Linked DNA regions of Homo sapiens. The protein of the gene in region 7 purifies or fractionates together with the protein of the main gene of each other region. This does not show direct contact. Each region holds a gene or a part of one and is shown on either strand. Other genes may lie near its edges.

Region 1 (3,500 bases), about 35 Mb from region 7:
ATCAAAATGAAATTCTTACAATTTTTTTTTTTTTTTGAGATGGAGTCTGGCTCAGTCGCCCAGGCTGGAGTGCAGTGATCTTGGCTCACTGCAAGCTCCGCCTCCTGGGTTCACGCCATTCTCCTGCCTCAGCCTCCTGAGTAGCTGGGGCCACAGGCGCCCGCCACCACACCCAGCGATTTTTTTGTATTTTTAGTAGAGACGGGGTTTCACCGTGTTAGGATGGTCTTGATCTCCTGACCTCGTGATCCGCCCGCCTCGGCCTCCCAGAGTGCAGAGATTACAGGCATGAGCCACCACGCCTGGCCTCTTATAAATTTTTTTGAAAATTATAGAAAATTTACCACGCTAACTATTTGTGTTAGTTGCTTTGAAGAGAAAAAAGATACTCCCTTTCTCTTGGAGAAACGTACTCTTGTCTTTGTATGTTTGTTGTTGGTTTTTTACTAGATTCCATACCAGTTCTGGCATGTCAGATAAGCAGATAGCACGCCATTTAGGCTCTAAAGCAATACTTCACATCCCCATTTAGTCCTCGTTATTTATGAGGGATACCTTCCAAGACTCCTTTGGATGCCTGAAACCACAGCTATCGAACCCTATATATACTATGTGTTTTTCCTATACATACCTGTGACAAAGTTTAATTTATAAATTAAGCACAGGAAGAGATTAATAATAACTAATAATAAAGTAGAACAATTATAAATCTATACTGTAATGAATGTTATGTGAATGTCATCTCTTGGATTAGCATGTCTTACTGTATTATACTCACCTATTTTCAGATCATGGTTGACTGTGGGTAACTGAAACCACAGAAAATGAAACTGTGGTTATGCAAGTACTAATGTGAACTCAGGTTCCTTTTAATTGGTCCTTTTGGACTGAGAGCACATCATTTTTACTTTATTAAATCACTGTTCTGTAAATGTATTTAAGTATTGGCTTAAACATTGAGGTAACCGAATAAAACATGGTTTTTCTTTTTTGTAGAACATGTTCTTCAAGTATACATGGAATAACTTTTTGCATACACAAGTGGAAATTTGTATTGCACTGATTCTTGCAAGTCCTTTTGAAAACACAGAAAATGCCACAATTACCGATCAAGACTCCACTGGTGATAATTTGTTATTAAAACATGTAAGCTTATTTGGTCTCGTTTTTCTCCCACTCTCTCCTGGTTATAGCAGTTTTCCACTTGACTGTGATGTGAATTGAGGTTTAAAGGGCTTGAGGTTAGATTTCAGAGTCTAAATATTTGACAATCATGTGTTCGTTTCACTTTTAACATATAAATCATTATATAAATCAAGTACTGGACAAATAACTATTAAATGAACAGTCTTGTAAGAAAAAAGCTAAGTGGCCTCCTTATTTGGTAAAATTAATAGGTTTGAAGATATATAAATTCTTTGATGATTTGAAGAATCATAGAAATTTAAATACTATGGAAAACATTTGCACTATTATTTGGCTGACCAGAGTGTAGTTTCTTTGCTGAATACGTGACTGAAAGTCAGGAGAACTGAGTTCTTTGTGATGTTGAGAGTCTTCCTGGGGTCTCTTTTTCTCTTCTGTCAAATATGAGATAATTTTACTAAGTCAGTCTTCAGATTTTTTCTTGCTTGGTAGTTCTATGGTACTTTTAAAATTTCTAGCCCACACTTGGTTTACTCGCAAACCTAAAATGTAGAAAAGGCTAGCTTGGAACAGCCAAGTTGATGGGAAAGACAAATGACACCTGAGAAGAACTAGCCCTGCACATTCCAGTATTGCAGCCTACAGCAGTTGTCACTGACTTGCAGACTTTGGGCAAAACCCACCTGTTTTTAATATTAATGCAGTAATGTTAGTTCATCTGGAAGTAAGACGTGCTCACATTTTAAAAGTACAAGCATTACTTTGGATTCTAAGTTAAATTTTTGCCAAGGCATAGTTTTCTTTATTCCATTTTAATTTAGCTCAGGTTTTATATTTCTGTTCTGAATTTTCACAGCTAATAAAACCTGGCTTTCCTTTATAGTTAACTATAGGTAGTTAACTGCACTACCTATAATACTGAGTTTCCTGTAGATGTTCTGTGGAGGGTGTGGATCCTGATTTGAATCTCTGTAGTGTTGTGGGTGTCTGCAGTAGATTGATGATCACATTGCATTTGGCTTAGTAACATTTAGCTTGCTAGATTATGCATACTACTATTCTCTTTAACCTAGAGTTCTGTTTCACTTTAAAGTTTTGATGCTTTGAAGTATTAACTGGAATATTCTTTTTTTTTTTTTCAGCTTTTCCAAAAATGTCAATTAATAGAACGAATACTTGAAGCCTGGGAAATGAATGAGAAGAAACAGTAAGTAAATTGTTTTTTTGAAAGGAATTCAGTTTGGTTGGTAATATGAGGAAAATAATACCTCCTTGCCCTAGTCAGAAAAAAATGGAAATAATTACATGATACTGGCCATTTTACAATTTAAACTTTTCCCCAGATTATTTCATTGTAACAGTTGTTTTTATAATACTAATAATTTCTTGTTAGGTCCTCTTGTTTTTGGGGCAAAACAAGTGAGTTCGGAGTGTTCCCCACCTCTGTGCTGCCTTTGAAACTTCCTGGTCCTTTTTGAATGGCTACTGTTCTAAGAGTTATAAGGTTAAAGTTAAGTCCTTGATGATGTGACTTAGTGTATTTGTCCTGGTCACCTTATGCTCAGAACAGAAGGTATCACGTACATATTTTCATTGTAGAGAAGAGTTGCTTTGTACAGGGACCTAGAGGAAAAAAATTGCTCAGTGTTTTCTTTTTAGAAAATGTTTGTTAGCTGATTGGCAAGGTTATGTGAAGTATTAGTTGATACATGTAAGTAGCTTTGTTACACAAAACGTTTTCTTACAGGTGTTGTCTGTAACAGCATTCCTCTCTAGTGCCCTGGAAGCCTTTATGTCACCCCGTAGATTCTGAAGCATGGTGGCATAAGGGCGTGTTTGGGAAACACTCTGAAGGCATGCTTCTGTGTTTGTTTTTAAGACAGGTTTATTGAGATATAATTCTCATATGGTAAAGCTCATTTTAGGTGTACATTCCTAGGAATTCTGACTGATGCCTGAAGTCACCATCACCACAATCAAGACATTTCTGTCACCCCCAAAATTTCTCTCATGGTCCTTTGTAGTTGATCATTTCCCAGCATTCTTGTTATGTGTCTCTGTGTCTCCAGGAAAGCTAGATGACTCTTGGGAGTCAGCCTTACTTTGTGAGGTTTGATTTTTTTTTTTTAAATCGTTTAATAAGCACTGCTACTAGGGTTTTGATTTGGCTTCATGTGGGAAATTGGCATTTTGTTTGTTTGTTTGTGGCAAGGGGCTAGTATTGGTAGACCTCAGATACATTCTTCCAAATGGAGCTCTTTGGAGATGCTGTTTGTGGCCCAGTTGACATCTCTGGTTATATGTCTGACTCCGTCTTGGCTTCTCTGTGTCCTTCCCAACCTCCAGTCTTCTTG
Region 2 (4,198 bases), on a different chromosome or scaffold from region 7:
CTGTTTTTGTTGTTTGTTGTCTTAAGCCCTGAGGTATTGGTAATTTGTTACACAGCAATAGACAACTAATATATTCAGAACGTAAAGCATTTTGAATTGACTATGGAGAACACTAAAGTTCGTTTTTTTTTTTTTTTTTGAGATGGAGTCTCGCTCTGTCACCAGGCTGGAGTGCAGTGGCGCGATCTTGGCTCACTGCAACCTCTGCCTCCTGGGTTCAAGCGATTCTCCTGCCTCAGCCTCCCAAGTGGCTGGGACCACAGGCGTGCGCCACCACGCCCAGCTAATTTTTGTGTTTTTAGTAGAGACAGGGTTTCACCATGTTGGCCAGGATGGTCTCCATCTCCTGACCTCAGGTGATCCGCCCACCTCAGCCCCTCAAAGTGCTGGGATTACAGGTGTGAGTCACCGCACCTGGCCGGAGCACACTAAAGTTCTTTAAGCTACAGCTCAATACTTCCCTTCTAAGAAGTTACAAGAAAACATGACAGCAATGTCTTATCTACAAATAGTTTTGCCGCCCTAGAACATGGCTCTTCAGGGCTTCCTGCTGCCCATTCTCAGATACCATCACACTGATGCCATAAATTATGATGATATTTAGAGAAGATATTTGCATTCAGTTCCTAACAGGTTTGGTTTCAAAGGAGTTAACTGATACTTTAGTCATATTTGCATGCTTCTTCCTAGCACTGATTTCTAATTAATCACCAAATCTGGTCATTTTTCCTTCCCAACATCTCCTCCCCTTGCGCTTTCCCCCTCCCGCTGACCCCAAGCCTGGCTTGGGCCCTTACCTGTCTGTCCACTGCGGACTCTCCCTAACTTCTGTCTCCAGCCCTCTTCAATCCACTAAGTTGCCTTCATAGTACTCTCCCATGGCAGCTTAATAAAACCAGCCACAACTCTCCCTTATTTAGCGAAGCAAATTTCACAGTCCTTGGGCTAATATTCAAGATTACAAGAAATACAATCTGATTTCAAACTACTCTTGTACTCAAGAAATACAATCTGATTTAAAATCACTCTTCAGAAAATTACATACGCTTTTGGTCACAGCATTCGCTACTTCATTTACCCTTTCCCACCTAGAAAGTCAAGGAATTCCGAACTTCCTTCTAATTCCTAACTTGATTTCTAACAGTAACAACCCAAACTCCTAAGAATATGCTTCTACACTAACCCAAACTCTAAGAATATACTTCTACACTATTTTTACATTTATTAATTTTGGCTGTATCTTCTGACTTACTGCTATGATGAACATCAGTTCATTTACTTCTGCTCTTCTAATATATTTATAATCACATTTTTTCACGCCTCTGTTGGTAAGCATAACTTTAAGTAACAGACCCACACCTCTATCTCTCACTCCATCACCATAGCCATTCCCTTTTGACTTTGGGTCCCTGACCTTTCCTTCCACTCCTCTCATAATCCCTATTTTTCAGACCTGCAATACACACCACCTTCAGTCAAACTGTCCCCCGGAACATCTTTTGTCCTCCACCATGCTATCCTCCATACTGTTGAGTTCACTTTTCCAAATTGCATTCCTCTACGATCCAGTCCAAACTCCTCTGAGAAGGGGAAGACTCAATACAAAATGGTAACTCCCTCCCTGAATTCCTGGAGCATATATTAGTTGTTCCATTAATCTAACCACCAATTATGTATGTTGCGATTTTTTTCTGGCAGTTGTATTTAACTTTTCATTTGTGTAAGGCAGAAAGTTGTTTTCCTAACAAGACTCTAAGACCCCTGTCTCAGCATTTCCAAATCTACTTAGTAGAGTGCAGTGACTTGCATATATTGGATACTCTGTAACCGTGTTTACTGATGAATGCTAATATGAAAGCCTCTTCATATGAACCTCAAAAAGCTGAAAGTCAACTACTCTCTTAGTTTCCCAGCCTGGAAGATCAGATTACTTCATAAAAGTCACACAGGCCTGGATTACAGACCAATGAAACATCCAAAGGAAGGATACTTCTAAGTAAACATACAAACTTTACTGGGGAAGCCGCCTGATTAAAACCTTCCCCGGCAGAATCATGTCCAAAGTGAAGTACAAGGTCTGCTTAAACAGCTTATTAAAAGAAAAAAAAAACAGCGAAAAAAGCGCATCCCTATTGAAAAGATATTTTACTAGCTCCCGTGTCTTAACTTCTTAACTAAGAAACGAAAAGAGCCATACATCAGGTTGAAGTATCTGGGATTCCCGGACGAGGTGGAGGGCAGCGGAGGAAAAACACCGAGAGGCTGCGCTGCAAGGGACGCAGGGAAAAGCAAGCCTGGGGCAGGTCTGAGTTCCGAGTTCCCGACTGCTCCCTCGTGGTGTCTGCGACCCGGTAGCGGGAGCAAGTGAGGTTGTTGGACTGCAGTTTTCCCCCTACAGTGGCGATGCGGGGCCGGGGTCGCGGGTATGAGGAGATGGGGTGTGAGCCGGGGTGCGCCAGGGCAGAGCGCTTCGCCCACCGAGACGGGCAGGGCGGCTCCGGGCACTGGCCGGGCGGGGCAAGGAGCTCCTAGGCCGCCAGGTCCCTCTCTGCTGGCTCCGCGGAGTCCGCCCGGGGGAAGGGAAGGTCGGGGAGGGCCGGGCTTCTCCGAGTGGCCGCGGGGGCTGCGGGACAGGTACTTACCCGGGTGCCATTTCAGGGCCAGCTTCCGATAGGCCTTCTTGAGCTCCTCCTCGCTGGCGTCGCGCCGCACCCCCAGCGCCTCATAGTGACACTTCATCGCCCGACCGGGCGGGCGGCCGGCGCTGGGGCCCGGGACGGGGTCGGGGCCCGGGCCCGGGCCGAAGCGGCGGCGGCGGCGGCGCTGGCAGTCCTCTCCGGCGGGAGTCCGCCGCCCGCACCGGGCCAGCCAGCGAGCCCGGCGGCGGCGGCGGCGGCGGCGGTGGTGTAGGTCAGTGAAGGCGCGCGGTGGCGGCAGACGACGCAGGCTGCGGCAAGCGGGAGCGCGGCGGGGGCGGTGCCGGCGGCCGCCGCTTCGCATGGGCTAGGGGTGGGCTCTGTGCCGGAAAGGGCCGCGCGGGAGGGGGTGGGGCCTCGGCGGGGTGAGAGGCGAGGCCCCGAGGAAGGAAGGCGGGGCCTTGGCGAGGAGAGAGGCGGGCCGCGCAGGAGAAAGGCGGGAGCTTGGCGGGGAAAGAGGCGGGCCGCGTGGGAGGAAGGTAGGCCTTGGCCGGGAAGAACAGGAGGAAGGCGGGACCTTGGTGTGAGAGGCGGGGCCTCGGCGGGGCGAGAGGCGGGGCCGCGCGGAAGGGAGGCAGGGCCACGCTGGTGTCATTGTGAGGGGCACAGATGGCGGTCAGTGTGAGTGGCAGCCGACCTGAGGGCTGAAGGGGGAGATAGGAGCTGGGATGGGAGAGGATTCTGGAAAATATCTGATTATAATTTCTCAATGGATCCCCGTTTTTATAGATAAGGCGATTCAGACTCCAAGTGGTCAAGTGGTTGGCTCAAGCCTCCTCAGCTAATACAGTAGCAGAATTCGGTTGGACTGAATATCAGGTTTTTTTTTTAATCTCTTTAATTCTCTTCAGCTGCCACTTAAGATATCTGGTATTGATCATCTTGACCAATATGCTTGAGAAAGGACAGTTAGATTATTTAAGCGGAAACAATTTAAAAGGGAAGCATCAACACACTTAATGAAAAGCCTTACCACCAACATGGATGAAATTGTGCTGATCTATCCATCCAACACACTTTAATCCTAACTTTCTGGCCTCTAATCCTACCTTTCCAAGATTGGTTTAGGTTAAGAAAGCAGTTAAAGGATAGTATTTAACTGGTAGGTTTTGGTTGATCTGACTATCTGCACAATTATTCCAAACACTTTGAAAGGTATCAAAATAATACCATAATTATTAAAATGCATTAATACACCAATATATTTCACTGTAATGTGGAATGTTTACATGCATCAGTTAGGTGTGGGTTGTATTTACTAACCATGTATGGTTAGCTATGTTGCTAATATCTATTGCACAGGGTTGGCGTACCCAAGCGGTTTAGTAAGGTTATCCTTCTCTTCCCCAATATGCTGCCCCCAGTAAAATAAAAAACCCACGCTAAGCTTCATCAGGTTACTTCACACGCCACTGACCAACCAACTCACTACTCAGAATTCATACACTTCCCTTTTTTCCAGAGGAAGATTCTACACAGTCTCAGTTAGTTGGTAAATTGGT
Region 3 (3,500 bases), on a different chromosome or scaffold from region 7:
AGGGATTGAGAGGGTCAGCTGTGGGAAATTGGTGTCAGCTGAGTAATTGAAGCGGTTGTGATATAGAGGAAGGGGGGTGCTAAAAATGGGCTGTGTGAAGTGCCAGGCTGCAGAACATCCTGGGAAGCTTTTAAATATCTTTGGTAATAGGGGAGTCTGGGTAAGAAGTGAGAAACTGGGATGCTAATGAGGAAAGAAGAAAAAGGAGCCCTGGGTGTTTGGGTTTCGGAAGGAGAGAGGGAACAGAAAAATAAAAAGACTAGGGTGGCTAGATAGCTGGATCTGTTAGTATGCATCAGTAGTCCAAGCTACTCAGCAGGCTGAAGCAGAAGGATCACTTGAGCCCAAGTTCAAGACCAGCCTGGGCAACATAGCAAGACGTGGTCTCAAAGAAGACCAGGATAATGAGTTTGTCACCACCCAGAGAGATCAACCCCAAAGCCTGGGTCGTTGCATCCTGCAAGTAGCGACAGTTGATTTGTTGTAAAAGAGATGATAGAAAGCATAGTAACTGATTCCCCTGGCCCTGCTGGGTCTTGCCAATTGACAGGATCGTGGGGGTCCTCCCTGCAAGCCCCCAGCACCTGAAGATGAGGATGAGGCATGGCGGCAGCGACGAAAGCAGTCGTCATCTGAGATTTCCCTGGCAGTGGAGCGGGCCCGGCGACGGCGAGAAGAAGAGGAGCGGCGCATGCAAGAAGAGCGCCGGGCAGCCTGTGCTGAGAAGCTCAAGCGACTCGATGAAAAGTTTGGGGCACCTGACAAGCGGCTCAAAGCAGAGCCTGCTGCCCCACCTGCTGCCCCTTCTACCCCAGCTCCACCACCTGCAGTCCCTAAAGAACTCCCTGCACCTCCAGCTCCACCTCCAGCATCAGCCCCAACACCAGAGACAGAACCTGAAGAGCCAGCACAGGCCCCTCCTGCCCAATCTACTCCTACTCCAGGTGTGGCTGCGGCTCCCACTCTGGTGAGTGGTGGTGGCAGTACCAGTAGCACCAGCAGTGGCAGCTTCGAAGCCAGCCCAGGTATGGAGATGGGGATAGGTACTACCAGATGTCAGATCACTGCTTCAAGGTGCTTAAAGGTGCAGGGTGGTAAGGCTGGGGATAAATGAAGTAGAAGGCAGTTGTTTTGGTTTATTGGACTATCAGTGATAGTGTTCTATCATTTGTATATCTGAAGGAGGGAAGGTTTTGTCTGGAATCTTAGGTTGTAGTCTAATACCATTTCTTGGCAGAGTACTGTAGCTCACGCCTATAATCCCAACACTTAGGGAGGCTTGGGGTGGAGGATCGCTTGAGCCTAGGGAGTTTGAGACCAGCCTGGGCAACAAAGCAAGACCCTGTCGGCCAGGCATGGTGGCTCACACTTGTAATCCCAGCACTCTGGGAGGCCGAGGCGGGCAGAACATGAGGTCAGGAGTTCAAGATCAGCCTGGCCAACATAGTGAAACCCGTCTCTACTAAAAATACAAAAATTAGCCAAGTGTGGTGGCATGTGCTTGTAGTCCCAGCTGCTTGGGAGGCTGAGGTAGTAGAATCGCTTTAACCCGGGAGGCAGAGATTTCTGTGAGCCAAGACCATGCCATTGCACTCCAGCCTGGGTGACAGAGCAAGACTCTGTCTCAAAAAAAAATCCTGTCTCACAAGAAATACATAAATAAAAATGAAAACTATTTCCTATAGGCCAAGACTGAAGAAAGTACTGTTGTTCTAATGGTTTCATAGAAAGTTAATGCCACCACCATAGGCTCATGAGAGGCCATGAAGTGCTTTAATGGGTCTTAAATGGGAGGGGCTTCAATAGAATAGATGTTGAATAGAATATTTTAGTCTTAAGGGAGCTAGAGATGAGACGTGAGATTCCTGGGGTGTTCATGGAGTGTCTATTGTTGGACTAGATCACTCTGTTGTGTTTTTTCCGATGCAGTGGAACCACAACTGCCCTCAAAAGAGGGTCCTGAACCACCAGAAGAGGTTCCTCCTCCTACCACACCCCCAGTTCCAAAGGTGGAACCCAAGGGTGATGGGATTGGTCCCACCCGCCAGCCCCCTAGTCAGGGCTTGGGCTACCCCAAATATCAGAAGTCGTTGCCTCCTCGTTTCCAGCGGCAGCAGCAGGTGAAATCAAGTTGTTTACCCTCTAAGGGCTGCTTTTCTTCCTGGCTTCGGTCCCTAATTCTCTTCATAAGTTACCTTCTGGGTCCCTTTGCTTCTTTGTCCAGTTGTCTCCATTGTCACGCCAATTTCCCCTAGTCCAAGTTTTTTCTTTGCTGATTCCTTTGTCCATGTGTGCTTTGAGCCTCTCTCATCTTGTCTTTCCTCCTTTCCTAGGAGCAGCTCCTGAAGCAGCAGCAGCAGCACCAGTGGCAGCAGCATCAACAGGGCTCTGCCCCTCCTACCCCAGTGCCCCCATCACCACCACAGCCTGTGACCCTGGGGGCTGTGCCAGCTCCACAGGCTCCACCCCCGCCCCCCAAGGCCCTGTACCCAGGTGCTCTGGGCCGGCCCCCACCCATGCCCCCAATGAACTTTGATCCCCGATGGATGATGATTCCTCCTTATGTGGACCCCCGGCTCCTCCAGGGTCGTCCCCCTCTAGACTTCTACCCTCCTGGTGTGCATCCCTCTGGTAAGGGGGCATGGGAGGAGTGAGAAACAGGAAAGTCCCCTCAGTCTTAGGCATTGGATATTAGGGTCTTACTGTGACTCTGGTACGATAGGTTTTGCCCATCATAGTGATGAGGGAAGGGCATATGCTTGGCACTGCTGAGATAGCTCTGTTGCAAAAATGGGCTTAGTTAAGAAATAAGCAGTGGTTGGCCAGGCATTGTGGCTCACGCCTGTAATCCCAGCACTTAGGGAGGCCGAGGTGGGCAGATCAACTGAGTTCAGGAGTTCGAGACCACCATGGCTAACGTGGTAAAACCCCATTTCTACTAAAAATACAAAAAAGTAGCCGGCGTGGTGGCGCTCGCCTGTAGTCCCAGCTACTCGGGAGACTGAGGCAGGAGAAACGCTTGAACCCAGGAGGTGGAGGTTGTAGTGAGCCGAGATTGTGCCATCGCACTCCAGCTTAGGCAACGAGCGAAACTCCGTCTCAAAAATGAATGAATGAATAGCACAACTCCATCTCAAAAATGAATGAATGAATGAAAGAAGCAGTGGTCCTTCATTTGCCAGGATTTATTTGGGGTGGGTTGATTCTCTTGTAGGGAATCTGAGTGGATAACCTTGTTATATAAGAGCAGGCAAGGCCCGGACCTACTGGGAACAAGAGATGGAAGAGCTGACTTGACCGCGAGGGGAGATGCTTTTTGGGCTGGAGGGCTTGTGACATGAATAGGATTATTTTTCTTTTTCTTTGGTTTCTTCAGGCCTAGTTCCCCGAGAGCGTTCAGACAGTGGGGGCTCAAGCTCAGAGCCATTTGACCGTCATGCACCTGCTATGTTACGGGAACGGGGCACTCCACCGGTGGATCCAAAGTTGGCCTGGGTAGG
Region 4 (3,500 bases), on a different chromosome or scaffold from region 7:
AGACATTATAGAAAATAGCTGTTCTGCAATCTTCAAAAGTGAGAAGGCCATGAAATACAAAGGACTAAATAAATGTTCCATACTTAAGAAGACTAAAAAGACATGACAACCAAATGCAATATGTGATTGGTCAGAAATAAAAATTAATGGGGCAACTGCTTTTGAAAATTCTATTAATATTATGGTTACCGAAGATGTTAGCAGCTGGGAAAGATGGATGAAGGATATAGGGGAACCCATCATACTACTTTTTCAATTGTTTAATAAGTCAAATTATTTCAAAATGAAAAGTTAAAAAAATTGAAAAAAGTATTTGAGAAAAAAAGAAAAGGCCTATATATCATGTTATACTTATTAGAATTTTTCCCTATTGGTGATCATGCAAGAAAGTTAGACCAATTAAGCACACAGAAGTCAGAAGAGAGATGGTTCAGTTTAAGCTAACCGTTTAAGTAATAGGGTTGAAGGTGGAAGCTAACACTTTTTCTACAAAAAATAAATTAATAAAAAAAGCACAAGGGACCATAAACCATTTCAATGCCCATTTAGTAACTACATTTGCTGTTCATTCTACTGAAAAAAACCCAACATACCTTCCACTCAGCAGAATATCTCATCACAATTGCTCGGCACTGATTGTTATACTCTGTAATCCCCATTTTGGCCACATCCTCTGGTCCTCTGATTCCCAGTGTCTTATCAATTTCATATTCCTGAAAATTTGTGATAAGACTGTTACCACGCTGCCCTATGAAAACAACTGCAACTATGCAACTCTAGAAAACAAAACAAATCAAACTACAAATATTATAGAAATGAACTAGAAGGTCTGACAGTCAACGTTCATCATACTTGAACATATTATATGACAAAATCTAATGCTTATAAAAAAAATCAGAAAATTATAAAGCTGGATACTCAAACATACCACAGGTAAGCCATGGCAATCCCATCCAAATCTTCTGTCAACATGAAACCCACTCTGGTGAGCATATCTTGTAACTATATCTTTAATTGTACCCGCAAGTATATGTCCATAGTGAGGCAGTCCAGTTGCAAAAGGAGGACCATCATAGAAGGTAAATCTAACAGGTAATAAAAATATATCAAGCCATTTAAAAACAGCCAAAATTTAAGGCATTTTTCTATAGATAGCTCTTGTCATAGTGGAGTCTTCAAGGAGAAAAGCAGCAAGATCAGGAAACCGACAGACATAATTGATTTGATATTTACTGGTGGTCCTGCCTTCAGAAAGGCTACAATTGTGGTAGAGCTACAGAGACCTCCATTTGATTATCCATTTTTCATTTATTAGTTCCATGACATAAGGCAAATTATTTATCCTGATCTTGAGTTATCTCATCAGTAAAATAGGGCAATAAACCCCTATCTCATAGTTTTTGACCAGAGGAGACATATAATGAAAACACTGATTAAAGGACTAGTCTTTTAGGTGAATGAGGACTAAAGGCAGGTAGTACTATAGTAGCCTTCTATGGGGTACTTAGGTATAAGTGCCTAAACGAGGGTGGTGATGAAAATAAAGGTGGAAAGAGGGTGACACGGAGGATGACACATAAATTTTACTCAGATGACCTTTTAAAGAAACAAAATTTACCCCAATAATTGAGAACTCATTCATTCAATGTATATCTACTACTGAGTACCCACTACATAGGGAGCTGGGGGATTCTGGGAATAGAAAGATTAATAAAGAGTATCTGCTTTAGGCCGCGCGTGATGGCTCACACTTGTAATCCCAGCACTTTGAGAGGCCGAGGTGGGTGGATCACTTGAGGTCAGGAGTCCGAGACCAGCCTGGGCAACATGGTGAAACCCCGTCTCTACTAAAACACAAGAATTAGCTGGTGTGATGGCGGGCACCTGTAATCCCAGCTACTCGGGAGGCTGAGGCAGGAGAATCACTTGCATCCGGGAGGCAGAGGTAGCAGTGAGCAGAGATTGCACCACTGCCCTCCAGCCTGGATGACAGTGCGAGACTCCATCTCAAAAAAAAAAAAAAAAAAAAAGTATCTGCTTTAATGGAATTCAGTCTAAGAAATGACTATTCTTAAGGGAACTTAACCTAAAAAATTCACATACTTTGGTTTATGTTTTGATTGCTTTAAGCATTCCTGAAAACAATTAAATTCAGTCCAAAACTCCAAGATTTTCTCTTCTTCAGCAGGAAAATTTATGTTTTCTGGAACTTGTTGAAGCATTTTGTTGCTGCAAAAGAAATCAAATTTATTACTGTCAAAAGAGAAATCTAGGAATAACAGAGTACCATATTATTAACATGGGTGTACATGACACTATCCATACTTTTAAAAAATTACAGCTTTATTGATGTACAATTTACATAGTGTAATGTAAAAAGTGTACAATTCAGTGGCTTTTTAGTATATTTACAAGGTAGTATAACTAGTAATACCTAATTTCAAAACGTTTTCAACCTCCCCTCCCCACCAAAACACCCCAAAACCATTAGCAGTCACTCCCCATTCTTTCTTCTCCATAGCCAGTGGCAACGATTTATCTTCTTTCTGTCCCTGCAGATTTACCTATTCTGGACATTTCATATAAATGGGAAAATTTATAGGAATCATCTATATGTGGCCTATTGCATCTGGTTTCCTTTCTCTAGCATGTTTTCAAGGCTCATCCATGATGTAATATGTATTCATACTTCATTACTTTTGATAGCTGAATAGTATTCCATTTCATGAATATGCCACATTTTGTTTATCCATTCATCATTTCTTGGATACCTGTATTGTTTCCACTTTTTGGTTATTACGAATAACGCTGCTATGAACATTCACATACAAAATTTTGTGTGGATCTATGTTTTCATTTCTCTTGGGTTTGTAGCTAGAAGTAGAATTTCTGGGTCACATGATAATTCTGTATTTAACTTTTTGAGAAAATGCCAAAATTTTTCCAAAGTGACTGTACTATTTTACATTCCCTCAGCAGTGAATGAGGATTCTAATTTCTTCAGATCTTACCCAACACATCTTATTGTCCATCTTTGAATTACAGTCATTCTAGGAGATGTTAAGTAGTATCTTGTGGTTTTGATTTGCATTTCCCTAAGGACTAATGATGCTGAGCATCTTTCCACATGCTTATTGGCCATTTGCGTATCCACGTTGGATAGATATTTATCCTTTGCCTATTTTCTAATTGGGCTCTTTTTGTGGTTGGGTTTTAAGGGTTATGTATACATCCTGGATACAAATCCTTTATCAGATATATGATTTATAAAAAATTTCTCCTGTTCTGTGGGCCGTCTTTTTATTTTCTTGATGGCATTTTTTGAAGCACAAAGATTTTTCATTTTAATGATGCCCAATTTGTCAATTTTTGGTTTTGCTGCTTGAGCTTTTGGTGTCATCAATAAACCATTACCTAAACAAGGTTATAGATTTTTCGCTTACATTTAGGCCACAAATAATTTTATTTTCGTATATGGTGTGAGGGAGGGGTACATGGCT
Region 5 (3,500 bases), on a different chromosome or scaffold from region 7:
GTATCATTAAACAATTCCCGTTCTCCCTTTCCTCAGCCTCTGGTAACCGCCATTCTATTTTTTGTTTCTATAAATGACTACTTTAGCTTCCTCATGTAAGTGGAATCATATAGTAGTTGTCTTTTTGTGACTGGAATATTTCACTTAGCATAATTTAACAAGGTTCATTCATGTTATAGCATGTGACATTTCTTTGATTTTAATGGCTAAACAGTATTCCATTGTGTGTATAATACCACATTTTGTTTATCCATTCATCCATCGATGGGCATTTGGGTTGTTTCCACCTCTTGGCTACTGTGAACTGTCTATGAACATGGGTGTGCAAACATCTCTTCAAGACCCTGCTTTCAATTCTGCTGTATATACACCTTGAAGTGATATTGCTGGATCATATAATTTTTTTAAAATTTTTTGAGGAACTCTTATTTTTTCCTTAATGGCTGTACCATCTTATCATCCCACCAACAATGCACAAAAGTTTATAATTCTCCACATCCTCACCATATCCTGATACTTTTTTTTTTTTATAGTAGCCATTTCTAATAGGTGTAACATTTCATTATGCTTTGGTTTGCATCACTCTGATGATTAGTGATGTTAAGCATCTTTTCATGTTCTTTTTGGTCATCTGTATATCATCCTTGAAGAAATGTCTACTTAAGTCCTTTGCTCATTTTAAATAGGGTTGATTTTTTGTTGTTGTTATTGAGTTGCAGGAATTCTTTATATATTCTGGATATTAATCCCATATCAGATACATGATTTGCAAATATTTTCTCCCATTTTGAAAACTGCCTTTTCACACTGTTGATTGTGTCCTTTGATGCACAAAGTTTTTAAGCTTAGTGTAGCCCCATTTGTCCACTTTTGCTTCTGCTGCCTATGCTTTTGGTGTCATATCCAAAAGCATGCAAGTCCAATGTCATGAAGCTTTTCTCCTATGTTTTATTCTAAAGTTTTACAGTGTTAGGTGCTGCATTTAGGTCTTTAATCTATTTAATTTTTGTATATGGTATAAGATAAGGATTCAATTTCATTCTTTTGCATATGGATAGCCATTTCCTCTAACATCATATATTCAAGAAGCTGTCTTTTCCCCCAAAGAATGCTCTTGGCACACTTGCTGAAGATCATCTTGACCATGTATGTGAGGGTTTACTTATCAGCTATCTATTCCATTCCATTGGTTTGTTTGTCTTTATGCCAGTATCATACAGTTTGGGTTATTACAGCTTTGCAATATGCTTTGAAATCAGAAAGTGTGAATCTTCTAACTTGTTTCTTCTTTTCCAAAATTGTTTTAGCTGTTTGGGGTCCATATCTCATTTTTCTTATGTACGCTATTATGCCAACAAAAAAAAGAAAAGACAAGACTGGGAATCACTGAGTCTTACAGGAGAATGACCTTCAAATTTTTTGTTCATATATGCCCCAAAAGAATTTTTTAGTATGTATCTCTTGCAAAAAATATGTAATTTCTGTTATACTATAAACATGTACATTTAAACATAAAACTATTATTACTTTTTAAAACTTAGTGGATTCTAAACACTATAGGGAAATGATACCCACCGACATCCATTAAAAAAAAATGCTGACCTTCTCAACAGTTTTTACAAGTCCTTTATTCTCCTTGAATACTTATTTCTATTCTACTTCCTCCACAGAATGCTATTCTAATAAACACAGATTTTTATTATTATCAGTACAAAACTCTCTCTGCAAAAAAGGATATGAATTAAGAAAACATTTTCCTGTGATAAGACTCTTAAGTATTAACATTTTTCTTCTTGCTTGAGTTATTACAATTATTTTATGTAAATAAGTGAGGAAAACAACATAAATATATCATAAATCTTGATAATTAAACAAAAAGTAAAATTTGGAAAACTAATAATAAAACGAATGGAGGAATTTACAACACTTTGATTAAAGGGGAGGTTTTTTTTACACCTTGAAGCAACTTACTATAATAAGACTACAAACGTGTCAGAGATAAAGTGGGAGAAGGCAGGGTGAGAAAGTAGGCACTTTCACAGGTACATGTGGAAAATGATTTACTTAAAATCATCTGTTCCCAAGCAACCTTTTATAAATTTCCATGATCCCAAGGTACTCTTACTTCAATCTAAAGACCCTGCTACTGAATAAAATCTAAACTCCTTCACCAACCTCTTCAATTTCACCTCTGAACACATCCCACCCTCCCACCACAATTTACTATTTGCAGCTTTCTGAATCCCATACTGTTTCACATCTGTTGTCTATTTTCTCTCCATCTGATGGACATCTTTAAACTATTAATGTGTAAATATCACCTCCTATATGAAGACTTTCTGGGTTTCCTGCATAGACTAGACCAACACTCCTTCATTCTCTCCCATCATGTGCCATATCATAGCATAACACCTCTAACAATCGTTTCACATACGTGTCTTCTTTTATTAGCTGAAAATTGCTTGAGGGACTTATTTTATTTATCTTTAAACTCATTTTGTGCTTAGAACATAGTAGATGCTCAATAAATACTACCTGAATGAAGAAACTGAAGAACACTCAAATCTCAATTTCCTCACTGGTAAAATTTTATCTGTATGATCCTCTTCCAATTTTAAAGAAACCCAGTAACTCTATATATTTTCTGAAATCTCTATAAATGTTCTATTTTCAGATTATTTTCTCTCCTAGTATGATCTCAAACTAGAGAAAATATTTTACTACATATAAAAAATAGAGTATTTTATATCATTTGTGATAGCCCATTATGCAAAGTGATTCTATGATTTTAGGTTATCCTAAATAAAGCACATTTTTCTCAGAGATTGCTTAAAAACATGAATTGATTATTTCAACATAATTCCCTACATGCTTTATATTCTGGTTGGTAAAAGAGGCAAGAAGGAAAACTATTCCACATTTTTAGTATGTCAATAAGAAATTATTTTACTATTAGGTAAATCAAGAAATCCACAATATTATAATACCCAAATTATCTCCAACTATTCTGGCTCTCCCTCTCTATTCATGTATTTATTTATTTATATATTTATTTATATTTTTGCCCAACCCAACTGTAAATTTCAGAAAGTTCTGGTCTAGGCATTGGAAATTATGTCACTATAGGTTAAATGGGGACCCATAAAGTGGGGACCTATACTCCACCCATCCCTGCAACTTCAAAGTAATAAACCAGGGAGAGTGGCTCATGCCTATAATTCTAGCACTTTGAGAGTCCAGGTGGGAGGATCACTTAAGCCCAGGAGTTCAAGACCTGCTTGGGCAACACAGCAAGACCCTATCTCAACAAAAACCAAAAAAATTATCTGGGCATGGTGCTGCATACTTGTAGTCCTAGCAACACAGGAGACTGAGGTGGGAGGATCCCTTGAATCCAGGAGTTTAAGGCTGCAGTGAGCTATGATCATGCCACTGCACTCTGGCCTGGGTGACAGAGTGAGGCCCTGTCTCTAAAAAACAAAAACAAAACAAACAAAAAA
Region 6 (3,268 bases), on a different chromosome or scaffold from region 7:
AACCTCTGCATCTGTGACACCTACTCTATGACCCCTGGGGACTGACAGTAAAGGAAGGGATGATGCTTCAGGGAGCAGATAGTGTAATCTGATAGTACTCAGGCATAGCTAGGCCTGCCCTTGCCCCTGCAGGTTGTCAGTGATGGTGTACCCCTGGTGCTAGCCCTGGTCCCCCACCGGCAGCCCCACTCCTTCATCACCCAGGGTTCCCCAGACCTGTTGGTAAGTGCATTGTGCAGAGCCCCAGCTCAGCTCCACTCCCCCTTGCCTCTGCCAGAAACCCACCTCTGCCCCCTCCTGCCTGCAGGTGACTGTGAGTGCCAGTGGGCTGCTGGGCACCCACAGCTGGTTGCCCTATGACCGCAACATAAGCAACTACTTCAGCTTCAGCAAAGACCCCACCATGGGCAGCCACAAGTAGGACAGAGGGCTGTGGGTGGGGTGGGCTACAAATGCCCTGCACCCGGAATTATTCCCCTCCCTAATCAGAATGTAGGCCAGCTGCAGGGGAAAGGTCTGGCCAGGCTCCCTGAGGGCCTGGGTCTCTTCCATGTGGCCTGGCCTCACTTGCTATCCCCCTCACTGGGTCAGGACGCAGCGACTGCTGAGTGGCCCGTGGGTGCCAGGCAGTGGTGTGAGTGGACAAGCACTGGCAGTGGCCCCGGATGGAAAGCTGCTATTCAGCGGTGGCCACTGGGATGGCAGCCTGCGGGTGACTGCACTACCCCGTGGCAAGCTGTTGAGCCAGCTCAGCTGCCACCTTGGTATGAACAGCCTTGGAGCTGGGGAGAATGAGGCACACAGGTATGGGGCCGGGTTCTGAGGCTGGCCAGGGCGGATGTGACTCCTCCGTTCTGCCTGTACCCTCCCCTTCCCATGCAGATGTAGTAACCTGCCTTGCACTGGACACCTGTGGCATCTACCTCATCTCAGGCTCCCGGGACACCACGTGCATGGTGTGGCGGCTCCTGCATCAGGTGTGCCTCGTGGGCAGCTCTGTGGGGCCCCCGTAGCCCAGACCTGCAGCCCATCCGTCCCTCAGTGGCCTTCCAGTCCTGTCCTCCTCTAGTCTTGGACAAGGCCTTCATTTCCTGAGCCTCAGGGGACAGTCCTAAGCCAACCCTGGTCCTCCACAGGGTGGTCTGTCAGTAGGCCTGGCACCAAAGCCTGTGCAGGTCCTGTATGGGCATGGGGCTGCAGTGAGCTGTGTGGCCATCAGCACTGAACTTGACATGGCTGTGTCTGGATCTGAGGTGTGTGTATGCATGTGCCCTGGGGAGGGTGAGTTTCCTGGGCAATCCCCCTGGAGCCCAGACTCCTGCCCAGGACCCTAAGTTGCCTTCCTGCAGGATGGAACTGTGATCATACACACTGTACGCCGCGGACAGTTTGTAGCGGCACTACGGCCTCTGGGTGCCACATTCCCTGGACCTATTTTCCACCTGGCATTGGGGTCCGAAGGCCAGATTGTGGTACAGAGCTCAGCGTGGGAACGTCCTGGGGCCCAGGTATGGGGAAGGGGTGCCCAGCAAAGATGGAGGGGCAGTTGGGATCCTGTCCTTGCTGACACTCCCTGCTTCCTCCAGGTCACCTACTCCTTGCACCTGTATTCAGTCAATGGGAAGTTGCGGGCTTCACTGCCCCTGGCAGAGCAGCCTACAGCCCTGACGGTGACAGAGGACTTTGTGTTGCTGGGCACCGCCCAGTGCGCCCTGCACATCCTCCAACTAAACACGTAAGCCCCCCATTTATGGGTTCATGGCCCCTGAAGGTGGTGGTCATTGGTGTAGGATAAAGGCCCTAGGAACCCACACACCATACATGTTTGTGGGCACATATTTCAAGGTTTGTTACCTGTCCCTTCATCTTCCCATGGGGAGGTCTTGCCCTGGGCCTCCGCTTAGCCACAGTTGTGGGAGATTTCTTTGTGTATAAGAATTTCAATTTAACCATCCTTAAAATGAGGACAGAGAGGGTATATGGGATAAGGGATATCTGCTGGTCGCAAAGCCCCCTTGCAGTCGCAAGTTGGTGTATATCCCCTCTCCCTTCCAGACTGCTCCCGGCCGCGCCTCCCTTGCCCATGAAGGTGGCCATCCGCAGCGTGGCCGTGACCAAGGAGCGCAGCCACGTGCTGGTGGGCCTGGAGGATGGCAAGCTCATCGTGGTGGTCGCGGGGCAGCCCTCTGAGGTGAGGATGGGGCGGGGGTGGGGAGGCCCCTCGAACGGGGCGGGGCGTGGCGCGGCGATCCCAGCTGATCCTACTCAACCCTTACGCCCACCAGGTGCGCAGCAGCCAGTTCGCGCGGAAGCTGTGGCGGTCCTCGCGGCGCATCTCCCAGGTGTCCTCGGGAGAGACGGAATACAACCCTACTGAGGCGCGCTGAACCTGGCCAGTCCGGCTGCTCGGGCCCCGCCCCCGGCAGGCCTGGCCCGGGAGGCCCCGCCCAGAAGTCGGCGGGAACACCCCGGGGTGGGCAGCCCAGGGGGGTGAGCGGGGCCCACCCTGCCCAGCTCAGGGATTGGCGGGCGATGTTACCCCCTCAGGGATTGGCGGGCGGAAGTCCCGCCCCTCGCCGGCTGAGGGGCCGCCCTGAGGGCCAGCACTGGCGTCTGCGGCCGCAGCAGCACTTTTTGCACAGTCTGGGGCGGGGTTCCCCGGCTTCCAAGTCGCTGTTTCGTCAAAGCACGAGGGCCGCCTGTGGCCTTAATTCCTAACGGCGGCCCCGGTTCTCCCTTCTCGGCAATAAACCAGGCCTAGTTTTGTAGCTGCTCCGTCTCCGAGTGTGCGTTCGCGCGCAGCGTCTCGGCCTGCCATGGCCACCGTCCCAGGGTCGCCGTCTGAGTCTGGCCTGGCTCGCGTTCCCCTGGCCCGTGACCCCCTCTGGGCCCACTCGCCCCCCCTCCGCGTGGCCGTCGCTGAACTGGGGCCTCAGTTTACCCGGCAGTGTAGCCCCTGCCCCACATCTCGCCCCGGCTTGTGGTTTCCCCACGATCTCTTCATGGGGTCGCCTTCGCACGCCATTCGTCCACAACCGCAACCCGGCCAGGCGCCCCGCAGGCGCGTTTGCATTCCTTCGCCGGGCAGGGGCGACAACACCCGAGGCCGCGCCCCTCCAGCTCGGCCCTGCCACCTCATTGTCTTGCCTACTTCTTGGGCCGCCCTGTGGCGCCGCTGTGGTCTCGGGGTTGGGGGTGGGGGGCCAGAACCACCCCAGAGAGTCCACGTTGTCTTCCCGGAGGGCTCGGTCCTGCCCTGCTGAGTGGA
Region 7 (3,500 bases):
CCAAAAGTGTTAGGATTACAGGCATGAGCCATTGTGCCCGGCCGGTAAGGATATACTTCTACCACCAAGAACTTAAAGAGTGGCACACCAATGAAACAAATTTTCATTGAGAAACGAGCACTCTACCAGGCCCTGGAAGACTGGTTAAAGCAGAGGCTGAATGAACACCTGTCAGGAATGCTGGATTTCTGAACGCTAAGAATGGCATAAGAATGCTAACCTAGGCCAGGTGCAGTGGCTCATGCCTGTAATCTCAACACTTTGGGAGGCCAAAGTGGACGAATCTCCTGAGGTCAGGAGTTTGAGACCAGCCTGGGCAACATGATGAAACCTGGTCTCTACTAAAAATACAGAAAATTAGCCGGGTGCGGTGGTGGTTGCCTATAATACCAGCTACTTGGGAGGCTTAGGCAGGAGAATCACTTGAACCTGGGAGGCAGAGGTTGCAGTGAGCTGAGATTGCGCCATTGTACTCCAGCCTGGGCAACAAAAGCAAAACTCCATCTCAAAAAAAAAAAAAAAAAAAAAAAGGATGTTACCTAAGGTTCCATTGTAAGATAATTTTTCAAGCAGGTTAAGTATCCAGGAGTTTAGTTTCACAAGCCGTTTGTCCAATTTTTTAAAAAAGATAAAAGCCAATCCTGTAAAAACCTTTATTCCTTGTCCAAGGTTATAATTATGCAGGTAAGTCTGAGTGAATTGAAGCAGCTGACTCTAGTAGGAAAAAGAAATGTTAACAAGTTCCAGCATCACCTACTTTGAACTATATTCTTAAAAAGTCTAAAGCTTCTAGATTTGAAAAGCAAATTACCATAAATAATCTTAAAGGGCATCTTTCAAAATATTAGTTGCTTTAACCAAGCTATTCCTTAGCATAATTCTGTACAACTTATTTATATTAATACATTCCTTGGGAGTTAAATGTAAAAAAATTACATCCCCACCATCACTGTTTTAATACTTTTTCGTTTTCTAAAACAGCACAGACTCCTGCTACATGAGCAAGCTTTCAGCATTTGAAGATAGCTGCCATGGATCATCTATAGATTGCAATGTGTTCTTTCTACCGTCGTCCTTTTAAAAATTGAGGAAACTTTTGCTTACTATCTTTCCTGTCCACAATGTAAAAAGAAGTTCAATGTAACTCAAAGTGTAAGCCCAAAGGGTTTTTTAATGACTAAAATATATTTCAGTTATTTCTATGTTTAGATAACAGTATTGAGGGGGGCCAGGCACAGTGGGTCAACCCTGTAATCCCAACACTTTGGGAGGCTGAGACAAGAGGATCGCTTAAGGCTAAGAGTTCAAGGTTGGAATGAGCTATGATTGCCCTGCTGAACTCCAGCCTGGGTGATAGTGAGACCCTGTCTCTAAAAAATTAAAATTAAAATATTTTTAGAACAGTATTGAGGAGAATGCAATGAAATTTCCAATAATGTACAATGGTTCTAATAATAAGAATTATCTGTGTTCTCTTAAGACCATTCACATATCTTGCTAATGCTACCCAGCTTTTTTTTTTTTTTTTTTTTTTTGAGATGGAGTATCACTCTGTTGCCCAGGCTAAAGAACAGTGGCGCGATCTCGGCTCACTGCAACGTCTGCCTCCCAGGTTCAAGCAATTCTCCTGTCTCGGCCTCCCAAGTAGCTGGAACTACAGCTGCATGCCACCATGCCCAGCTAATTTTTCATATTTTTAATAGAGGCGGGGTTTCACAGGTTGGCCAGGCTGGTCTCGAACTCCTGACCTCAGGTGATCCACCTGCCTCAGCCTCCCAAAGTGCTGAGATTACAGGCGTGAGCCACCATGCCCAGCCTGCTACCCAGCTTAAAAAAAAAAAAAAAAAAAAAGTATTCTTCTACTTGCCTACTCATCAACTCTACACACCTGTAAAAAGTAAAAAACCCTTCAGGAAAAAAATCAATTTCAATAAAAAAACACTGCAAGTAAATAGTTCTGTGCAAAAAGCATTTCCTCCCTAACCCCATGGATTAATCCATTTTAACAGGGTTGTTAATGAAGCTACAGATATTTCTATGTAATGATTTGGCCAAACTACCAAGTACTTATTCAGCATATACCATGTGTGAGAAAGCGCAGCAAAGTAATGTTAATAGTCTCTGCCCACAAAGAGCTTATTACCAATTTAGAAAAACATGTAAGGTTAACAACACAAGGCAATATAAAAATGTCAAGAAGTTTTGGACGCCGAGGCAGGCAGATCACAAGGTCAGGAGTTCAAGACCAGCATGGCCAACATGGCGAAACCCCGTCTCTACTAAAAATACAAAAAATTAGCCAGGTGTGGTGGCATGCACCTGTAGTCCCAGCTACTCAGGAGGCTGAGGCAAGAGAATCACTTGAACCCAGGAGGCGGAGGTTGCAGTGAGCCAAGACCACACCATTGCACTCCAGCCTGGGCGACACAGCAAGACTCCGTCTCAAAAAAAAAAAAAAAACAATGTCAAGAAGTGTACAGACAATAGGTAACAGGGGAAGTTAAAGGAAACAAACTACTTTAGCTGAGCATGGTCAAGAAGCACACCCTCCCCTTTCCTCAGGAAGTTTGAATTTTGAACTCTACTCAGTAAATTATCTTTCACCCACGTTTTTGTACTCATAGTCTATCTAACAAAAGCACTGTAGTAGAGCTAGTGAAAGAAAGAAATAAATGAGCTAAAACAAAGCAATTTACAGTTCCAACTTTGGATGAATTTCTCTTCTGCTACTCCTCTCACTCTTCTATACTGTATACACACACACCATTCATTTCCCCCAGAAAAAGGAACCAACTACCAAAAAATACCCAGAAGCTTGGAATACAGTAATTTGGATGAAAAGGTTGTCACACTTCTTATTTCTCTCTACTGGTAATGCTTTTTCCAGATTTTTCCGGTCTACAACATACCAAGCTGGAGTAGAGTCTGACAAATGTACATAGGAAGCTAAACATAAAGAAAAACTTCAGAGTTTTAACTTTATAAAAGTTTATTTCATTACAATATGGATGTCCCAATGATACCTGACACACTGGGATTTTACCTTACCGATATTCTCAGAACCCCATTACCCGGACAATGCAAACACAAAGTTCAACAATGAGACATTAATAAAAGTCTAATAATAAGGAAATGGAAAGCATTTTTCTTTTGCATTCAGTTTTTTAAAACAGAAAAACTCTAAGGATTTGAAGCAAAAGGCTTTACTTGATTCTACATAATTAAACATGAAAACTACACTTAGGCCGTGGAACATTACAAATTCTAATTACTCCCATAAAACATTATTTAAGAGGCCGGGTGTGGTGGCTCACGCCTGTAATCCCAGCACTTTGGGAGGCCAAGGCGTGCAGATCACTTGAGGTCAGGAGTTTGAGACCAGCCTGGTCAACATGGCAAAACCCCGTCTCTACTAAAAATACAAAAATTAGCTGGGCGTGGTGGCATGCACCTGTAATCCCAGCTACTCGGGAGGCTGAGGCATGAGAATCACTTGAACC

What was found.
Region 1: the proteins of CAPRIN1 (region 7) and PPP6R3 fractionate together in Homo sapiens (co-fractionation; one large-scale study listed by BioGRID). This does not show direct contact.
Region 2: the proteins of CAPRIN1 (region 7) and DNAJC21 fractionate together in Homo sapiens (co-fractionation; one large-scale study listed by BioGRID). This does not show direct contact.
Region 3: the proteins of CAPRIN1 (region 7) and PRRC2A purify together in Homo sapiens (affinity purification with mass spectrometry; one large-scale study listed by BioGRID and IntAct). This does not show direct contact.
Region 4: the proteins of CAPRIN1 (region 7) and IARS1 purify together in Homo sapiens (affinity purification with mass spectrometry; one large-scale study listed by BioGRID and IntAct). This does not show direct contact.
Region 5: the proteins of CAPRIN1 (region 7) and RAB3GAP2 fractionate together in Homo sapiens (co-fractionation; one large-scale study listed by BioGRID). This does not show direct contact.
Region 6: the proteins of CAPRIN1 (region 7) and NBEAL2 purify together in Homo sapiens (tandem affinity purification; one large-scale study listed by IntAct). This does not show direct contact.

The regions. Positions count from the first base shown.
Region 1 is NC_000011.10:68,568,752-68,572,251, forward strand, and holds part of PPP6R3 (serine/threonine-protein phosphatase 6 regulatory subunit 3), read left to right. Parts: intron 1-996; coding exon 997-1,146; intron 1,147-2,288; coding exon 2,289-2,353; intron 2,354-3,500.
Region 2 is NC_000005.10:34,928,361-34,932,558, reverse strand, and holds the start of DNAJC21 (dnaJ homolog subfamily C member 21), read right to left. Parts: upstream 2,740-4,198; coding exon 2,643-2,739; exon of another isoform or gene 2,198-2,642; intron 1-2,197. UniProt on the Homo sapiens protein: May act as a co-chaperone for HSP70. May play a role in ribosomal RNA (rRNA) biogenesis, possibly in the maturation of the 60S subunit. Binds the precursor 45S rRNA.
Region 3 is NC_000006.12:31,627,215-31,630,714, forward strand, and holds part of PRRC2A (protein PRRC2A), read left to right. Parts: intron 1-550; coding exon 551-1,025; intron 1,026-1,929; coding exon 1,930-2,120; intron 2,121-2,333; coding exon 2,334-2,631; intron 2,632-3,376; coding exon 3,377-3,500. UniProt on the Homo sapiens protein: May play a role in the regulation of pre-mRNA splicing.
Region 4 is NC_000009.12:92,287,198-92,290,697, forward strand, and holds part of IARS1 (isoleucine--tRNA ligase, cytoplasmic), read right to left. Parts: intron 2,230-3,500; 5' UTR 2,223-2,229; coding exon 2,104-2,222; intron 1,086-2,103; coding exon 929-1,085; intron 777-928; coding exon of another isoform or gene 714-776; coding exon 594-713; intron 1-593. UniProt on the Homo sapiens protein: Catalyzes the specific attachment of an amino acid to its cognate tRNA in a 2 step reaction: the amino acid (AA) is first activated by ATP to form AA-AMP and then transferred to the acceptor end of the tRNA.
Region 5 is NC_000001.11:220,262,454-220,265,953, forward strand, and holds part of RAB3GAP2 (rab3 GTPase-activating protein non-catalytic subunit), read right to left. Parts: intron 1-3,500. UniProt on the Homo sapiens protein: Regulatory subunit of the Rab3 GTPase-activating (Rab3GAP) complex composed of RAB3GAP1 and RAB3GAP2, which has GTPase-activating protein (GAP) activity towards various Rab3 subfamily members (RAB3A, RAB3B, RAB3C and RAB3D), RAB5A and RAB43, and guanine nucleotide exchange factor (GEF) activity towards RAB18.
Region 6 is NC_000003.12:47,006,934-47,010,201, forward strand, and holds the end of NBEAL2 (neurobeachin-like protein 2), read left to right. Parts: intron 1-132; coding exon 133-222; intron 223-307; coding exon 308-417; intron 418-591; coding exon 592-764; intron 765-882; coding exon 883-977; intron 978-1,136; coding exon 1,137-1,253; intron 1,254-1,349; coding exon 1,350-1,508; intron 1,509-1,586; coding exon 1,587-1,735; intron 1,736-2,055; coding exon 2,056-2,191; intron 2,192-2,285; coding exon 2,286-2,387; 3' UTR 2,388-2,768; downstream 2,769-3,268. UniProt on the Homo sapiens protein: Probably involved in thrombopoiesis. Plays a role in the development or secretion of alpha-granules, that contain several growth factors important for platelet biogenesis.
Region 7 is NC_000011.10:34,058,231-34,061,730, reverse strand, and holds part of CAPRIN1 (caprin-1), read right to left. Parts: intron 1,254-3,500; exon of another isoform or gene 540-1,253; intron 1-539. UniProt on the Homo sapiens protein: mRNA-binding protein that acts as a regulator of mRNAs transport, translation and/or stability, and which is involved in neurogenesis, synaptic plasticity in neurons and cell proliferation and migration in multiple cell types.